Linked DNA regions of Homo sapiens. Changing the gene in region 1 together with any one later gene gives a genetic interaction. Each region holds a gene or a part of one and is shown in the gene's direction. Other genes may lie near its edges. The genes, in order: CDC45 and ATR.

Region 1 (3,824 bases):
ACCCTGTGGGACTGGGAACAGCCTGAACACAAGAACTTGGTCTTTGTCATCTTTTTTTTTTTTTTTTAAGGAGAGTCTGGAGTACACTGGCACAATCATGGCTCACTGCAGCCTCAAACTCCTGGGTTCAACTGACCCTTCCTGCCTCAGCCTCCTTAGTAGGTGGGACTACAGGCACATGCCACCACGCCCAGCAAATATTTGTTTTTATTTTTGTTGAAATGGAGTCTTGGCTGGGCGCGGTGGCTCACGCCTGTAATCCCAGCACTTTGGGAGGCCGAGGCAGGCGGATTACGAGGTCAGAAGATTGAGACCATCCTGGCTAACATGGTGAAACCCCGTCTCTACTAAAAATACAAAAAATTAGCCAGGCATAGTGTTGGACGCTTGTAGTCCCAGCTACTCAGGAGGCTGAGGCAGGAGAATGGCATGAACCCAGGAGGCAGAGCTTGCAGTGAGCCGAGATCGTGCCACTGCACTCCAGCTTGGGCGACAGAGCGAGACTCCGTCTCCAAAAAAAAAAGAAAAGAAAAATCAGCCTGGAGTTGCTTTCAGACAGGAGTTTTAGTCACCACTTAGGGGTTACACATCTTCATGTCCTATATCAGACAGAGGCCAAGTTGTGGGGCGTTCATTTTATTGGTGTATGACGTAAGAGGATGCTGTGTTTCCAGACTTAAGTAGACTAGATGGTTCTCAAAGAACTGTTTTCAGATTTTCATAATTTCTGCATACCACGTATGGTGTAACTCTGGTGCCTCACTGGTAATGAAAACAAGAAAATTCCTTAGAAGCCTGGAACTCTTGTTAAATAGGTAGCTATTTGTATGAACAGGAAACTGAGTCAGCTTATTAGGAAATGATAAGATTCTGCAGAAGAACATATTGTATAGTTTTCCGTAGAAAGAGGAGAGGCTTAATTCCTTTTTGTTTTGAACTTAGATCAAATTACTCATTAAACAAGATGATGACCTTGAAGTTCCCGCCTATGAAGACATCTTCAGGGATGAAGAGGAGGATGAAGAGCATTCAGGAAATGACAGTGATGGGTCAGAGCCTTCTGAGAAGCGCACACGGTTAGAAGAGGTGAGTTTGGGTCTCTCACAGCTATCCCAGAGGAACTTGCACTCCCAGAGGTCGGAGGTCATCCTGAAGCCTGCCAGGCCAAGGTGTACTGAGGGCAGTGGGAAGTGGAAAAGTTAGCAGGCATGGATGCTGACCCTGGGCTCTGCTGTCCCCTGGTTATGTGGCCTCAGGCAGGTTACTGGACTTCCCTAAATAGTGGCTTATCTGTCCAATAGGATCCTGTCAGAAGAAATGAAATTTAGGACAGCTCAGCTCTGCGGCTAGATAGCAAAAAAATAATGTAGAGAAGCAATAAATAGTGTAACCCCCACCCCTTCCTTTTCTACTGTCTTCTAGCATCACTTACTATGCAGTCACTGCAGAGGAGCAATGTGGGTCTGCATCCCTTGGCCAGGCCCAGTCCCAGACAATTACTGCAGGGGAGGTATCTTGTATGTGAAGATACCAGTGGTTTTCACCATGTGGACCTTGGGTCTGAGCTGCTTAGTGATCTGGGGCTGGGCCCAGTGGCCTACCCAACACTACGGCTTCTGCAAGATGTAAAATGACAGGCAGAAGGTGGTTGTTCCCATAGCACGGAGGGCCACGTGATGCTTTTGAAGATGGCCTCTGGCTCCTGATCTTGGTGTGTGACCTAGAATTTGCCCCCGTAATGTTCTAGGGTCTTCCCTTCATCCTCAGCCTGACATTTCCCGGTAATGTGCTTTTGGGAAGCCTTTTTGAGCCATATTTGAGATGTTCAAGACATTCTTCATTTGGGGAAGGGGCAATGCCCTTCAAACTGAGGCATGCTTCTCTCTTCTTTCTCACCTTTGTCACCCCTTTCACTAGGTTTGGGTGTCTCATAGGGAACCTCTTGGACCCACTGTTATATTTTCTTACCTCTTGCCCAGCTCTTTGTTCTATTTTTTGGAAGACTTTTTGTTTTTTGTTTTTTTTTTGTTTTTTCCCCAGACGGGGTCTCTCTCTGTTTCCCAGGCTGGCCTCAAACTTCGGGCTCACTCGATCTTCCCACTTCAGCCTCCCAAGTAGCTGAGACTAAGCACATGCCACTACACTCAGCTTGGTCTTTATCTTCTAATCTTTGGTTTGTGAGGGGTCCTTTTTGTTCTCTGAATTTTTTTTTATATAGCATTCTTTTAACTATCGATGAGCTGCATTTCATTGGTTCCCAAATGTCAGTATCCAATGGGATTTCCCGGGAAACATTCATGTTCTACAGATAAGTCTTGGAATTTTCCACTCTGACTAATAAACAAATATTTTTTAAGCACTTACTATGTGCCAGGTACCAGTTAGGCCCTGGGGTGCGGGTATGAGAGCAAAGTCCTGCCTTTGCAAAGCTTTCCATTGGGGGAGACAGATACTGATCATGTAAATGAGCACAATTAGGGAAAGCTTTCAGGTATCAAACATGAGTTAGCAGGGGATGGAGCCAAGAGGATTCCTGGGCAGAGCATCCATAGACACTGCAGCTCTGAGGTGGGAAGGAAAGTTTCAAGGAAGGCTTGGCCAGCAGTGCCAAAGGAACAGGCAAATGAGAACAGACCAGTGGGTTTGGCAATAAAGAGAAGGTAGGTTGTCTTGATGAGATACAGGAAAATAATCAGCGTTTCCTTTTACATACTTAACACATCAATTTGGAATTTGTGTTTGTAAATGTTTAACATAATATTCATGGATTATAATAGGCATAATTTCCCACCAACTTTTTATTTTGAAATTTTTTGAAATGTATACAGTGGTTGAAAGGATAGTACAGTGAATATCCATGTACCTTCAATCTAGAGTCAACAGTGGATCATGACTGTAGGTGGTCTCAGCTACTTGGGAGGCCAAGGCAGGAGGATTGATGAAGCCCAGGAATTTGAGAACAGCCTGGGCAACATGAAGAGAACCTGTCTCAAAAAAAACAAAAACAGTTTTTCACATTTGCCACATTTGCTTTCTTTCTGTGTATTCTTTTTTCTGTATTATTTGAGAATAGATTGCAGAAACTGATATTCTTTTTTATTTTTTATTTTGTTTTTTCTTGAGATGGAGTCTCACTCTGTCACTGAGGCTGGGGTGCAGTGGCACGATCTCGGCTCCCTTCAACCTCTGTCTTCTGGGTTCAAGCGATTCGCCTGCCTCAGCCTCCCAAGTAGCTAGGATTACAGGCATGCACTGCCACAGCCAGCCAGAAACCATGATATTCTACACATTCTTTCATAAGCAGCTCCTAAGAATAAGGACATTCTTCCCCATAAACACAATGCCATTGTCATACATAAGAAATTAATAATATCCTAATATCATGTAATATTCAGCCCATATTCAGGTCTCTTTAATTGTCCTCAAAATATATTTTGCAGCTATTTTTATTTCTGAACTATTCTCCAATCAAGATTAAGACATTTAGCTATTCCTCTTTACTGTCTTAACCTAGAACCATACCTTACCTCTTTTTTTTCTTTTGTTTTTAATGACATTGAAGGCCAGTTCTCTTTTCTAATATTTACTACTACTTGTTTCTTCATGGAGTACTTTAACTTGCTTCTCTATCCCTGCATTTTCTATGATCTGTAAATTAGGTCTAGAGCGTTGATTTTAATAACATTAAGCATTCTTGAGAAGAATACTTTTTATATAATTAAAACCTGTGCATGATTTATAACTAAGTATGTGTATATTAGAGGTATATATATATTTTTTTGAGACGGAGTCTCGCTCTGTCGCCCAGGCTGGAGTGCAGTGGT
Region 2 (3,824 bases), on another chromosome or scaffold:
AAGTTACATGAAGAAAGTTGGTAATTCCCTTACAGAATTTTTTATAAGGGAATTAAAATTTATAGCATTTTGGTAAGAGGAAAAACAGGATGTAGAGAGAAGGATTTGTTTAAACCTTCTAAGACTATAGAACCATAGTCTATATATAGACTTAAATAATATAGATCAATTTAGATGTTTATTTTGCTTTATGAGACTCTAAAAGTAGTTTCACTAGAAAACACCTAACATCTAATACATTCTTGCTGCCTATGAATAATATAAATATATTTTCTAAGGAATATTTCTGGAAATTATTTTTTATTTTCTCAGTACTTGTTGGGCCCACTTTATGCAGCTTTGAAAATGGAAAGTATGGAAATCATTGAGGAGATTCAATGCCAAACTCAACAGGAAAACCTCAGCAGTAATAGTGATGGAATATCACCCAAAAGGCGTCGTCTCAGCTCGTCTCTAAACCCTTCTAAAAGAGCACCAAAACAGACTGAGGAGTATGATGACCTTCATTCAGTTTGTATTTAGCCATTAAATAAAACTTTGTTCACTTTTAAAAATCAGCTTTAGTTAAGTGCTTTGATTTAAATACACAAAGAACATCTTTCTAAATGTAGCCAAGGGAGTGCTTAAAATATTTTTATAATTATTGTAGACGGTTAGTAGTATAAAACATTTCATGGTTAAATATAGTTACTTTGCATGTTTTTATATGCTTATCTAATTTAACTTTTTAATATGTGAAAAATCTTTGAGACTGTGCATCTATTAGCAATTTTTAAAACATTAACCAACTATTTTTTATAAAGTGGCTAAGTTGCCATATTTCAGTTACTTCTGAACATTGTTTTAATTGTTTTAAATCTTAGTATAAATTTCAGGCTGGGCGCGGTGGCTCACGCCTGTAATCCCAGCACTTTGGGAGGCCGAGGCGGGCAGATCACGAGGTCAGAAGATCGAGATCATCCTGGCTAACACGGTGAAACCCTGTCTCTACTAAAAATACAAAAAATTAGCCAAGCGTGGTGGTTGGCGCCTGTAGTCCCAGCTACTCGGGAGGCTGAGGCAGGAGAATGGCGTGAACCCGGGAGGCGGAGCTTGCAGTGAGCCGAGATGGCGCCACTGCACTCCAGCCTGGGAGACAGAGTGAGACTCTGTCTCACAAAAAAAAAAAATTTTTTTGAATAGTTGATATTACATAGTATGTTTTATTCTAAATATGTTTCATGTTTTAACCAAATTTATATTGCATATGAATATCTCTCTACTATATTCATAATTATAGAATTAAACATGTGGACATGAACCAAAAGAGCATATTATGGAGTGCACTGAAACAGAAAGCTGAATCCCTTCAGATTTCCCTTGAATACAGTGGCCTAAAGAATCCTGTTATTGAGATGTTAGAAGGAATTGCTGTTGTCTTACAACTGACTGCTCTGTGTACTGTTCATTGTTCTCATCAAAACATGAACTGGTAAAACAAACTTCTTGTTTCTTGGGGTTGGGTTTCCTGTAATGAACTTGGATTTACTGTTTACTCATTATTCACTTGACTCATGTAACCTTAGAACACAAACTTTTCACTGAAGTAGTTAATAAATTTATTTTCTATTGAGTCAAATGCTAGGTACGGTGCTAAGCACTGTATATATCTTAGTTAATATTTACAATAGTCCTGTAAGGTAAAGGCTATTATGCCTATTTTAAAAATTAGAAACTGACACTCAGAGAAACTGAGGCTCTTTTTTGTCTGAAGCCAAAACTGACTTTCCTGGGGACACATGATTAGAAAGTACCAGAACACATTTGTGTACAACTCAAAACCCAGTGTTTGGCTGTTGAAGACAGGGTCTCGCTTTGTCTCCCAGGCTGGTGCACAGTGGCATGATCATGGCTCACTACAGCCTTGATCTCTATCCGGGGCTCAAGTGAGCCTCCCATGTAGCTGGAACTATAGGCATGTGCCGCCACACCCTAATTTAGAAAAAATTTTTTTTGTAGAGATGGGTTTCCCTATATTGGCCCGGCTGGTCTCAAACTCCTGGGCTCAAGTGATCCTCCCACCTCAGGCTCCCAAAGTCATTTGGTTCCCAAATCCTAAGGGTGATTTAAGCTGACATAAATAGATTCAACTTAAAATAGTAATAACATATTACTTGATTTGCATGTTTACTTTAAATTGTTATAGATAAATTTCGTACTCACAATTTCTTTTGGCTTTACTACAATTTTATGTTTGACTATAACAAAATTCATCTTAATTCCAATGTTTTTAACAAAATGTACTTACTGCAGCCGTACTTTCAAGGACTGTCAACATAAATCCAAGAAGAAACCTTCTGTAGTGATAACTTGGATGTCATTGGATTTTTACACAAAAGTGCTTAAGAGCTGTAGAAGTTTGTTAGAATCTGTTCAGAAACTGGACCTGGAGGCAACCATTGATAAGGTGGTGAAAATTTATGATGCTTTGATTTATATGCAAGGTGAGTACAAATTAGCAACAGATCAGAATAACCTTTAAAGATAATCAGTATAGAAATATGCTTTCTTTTTTGCCTGAAGCCTAAGTGCGTGTTTGGAATACTCAGAAGTTTTTTCCTGATTTCAGTTCTATTAAATTTGTCAATAATAGAAGTTCTGAGTTGCCAATTTATGTGCATAATATTTTGATTCTTTAGTCAATAGAAATTATTTATAACTTCAAAGTTTTTTAATTTGGGAGTTTGAGGAATGCCGTGATTCTTCTTTAAAACAGGCATAGATAACATGTTTTTATAAAGTCACATTTAATTTCTTTGGGTTCACAGACCTCAGACCATCGTTTATAGATCTCTGTGTTAAGAATTTCTGCTTATCCAATGATCATTATGATAGTATTTCAAATGTCTTTATTTTTATTTAAAAGAGATATGATTAAGGAAAAGTTATAATTAATGACTTATTTTGTGCTTCTGTAGTAAACAGTTCATTTGAAGATCATATCCTGGAAGATTTATGTGGTATGCTCTCACTTCCATGGATTTATTCCCATTCTGATGATGGCTGTTTAAAGTTGACCACATTTGCCGCTAATCTTCTAACATTAAGCTGTAGGATTTCAGATAGCTATTGTAAGTGCTCACAAGAATGTGTGTGTGGTTTGTTTTATTTATCTATCTATCTATCTATCTATCTATTTATTTATTTATTTATTTATTTATTTATTTATTTTTGAGACGGAGTCTTACTCTGTCGCCCATGCTGGAGTGCAGTGGCGCAATCTCGGCTTGCTGCAACCTCCGTCTTCAGGTTCAAGCAATTTTCCTGCCTCAGCCTCCTGAGTAGCTAGGATTACAGGTGCGCACCACCATACCCAGCTAATTCTTATATTTTTAGTAGAGGCGGGGTTTCACCATGTTAGCCAGGCTGGTCTCGAACTCCTGACCTCAAGTGATCCACCTGCCCCAGCCTTCTAAAGTGCTAGGATTACAGGCGTGAGCCACCATGCCTGGCCTTGTGTGGTTTGTTTTAACTCATCTCTATATAGGACTTCTAAGACTTATTTATATTTTTTTCAATAATTAAAAGAGCAGGTACATTTTTAATAGTTCAGAAGGGGGTTAGATACATAAAAAGTAACACATAAAAGCCTGCCCCACATATCCCATTTCCTTTCTTTTTGTAAAACATTTGCAATGTGTCCTTACATATCATTATCTTCATTTAATAAAATTAGGAAGTATTTGAGAAATATTTTAAAAAGAAGAACAATATACCAAAAATTCTTATACCAACTTCTCAGTTTAAGAAATAGAAACATTAGGCCAGGCACGGTGGCTCACGCC

The links.
Region 2: changes in CDC45 (region 1) and ATR are lethal when combined (synthetic lethality), as found in Homo sapiens cells (one large-scale study listed by BioGRID).

What each region holds. Positions count from the first base shown.
Region 1 is NC_000022.11:19,482,920-19,486,743, forward strand, and holds part of CDC45 (cell division control protein 45 homolog), read left to right. Parts: intron 1-942; coding exon 943-1,086; intron 1,087-3,824. UniProt on the Homo sapiens protein: Required for initiation of chromosomal DNA replication. Core component of CDC45-MCM-GINS (CMG) helicase, the molecular machine that unwinds template DNA during replication, and around which the replisome is built.
Region 2 is NC_000003.12:142,557,910-142,561,733, reverse strand, and holds part of ATR (serine/threonine-protein kinase ATR), read left to right. Parts: intron 1-312; coding exon 313-491; intron 492-1,279; coding exon 1,280-1,471; intron 1,472-2,292; coding exon 2,293-2,483; intron 2,484-2,957; coding exon 2,958-3,110; intron 3,111-3,824. UniProt on the Homo sapiens protein: Serine/threonine protein kinase which activates checkpoint signaling upon genotoxic stresses such as ionizing radiation (IR), ultraviolet light (UV), or DNA replication stalling, thereby acting as a DNA damage sensor.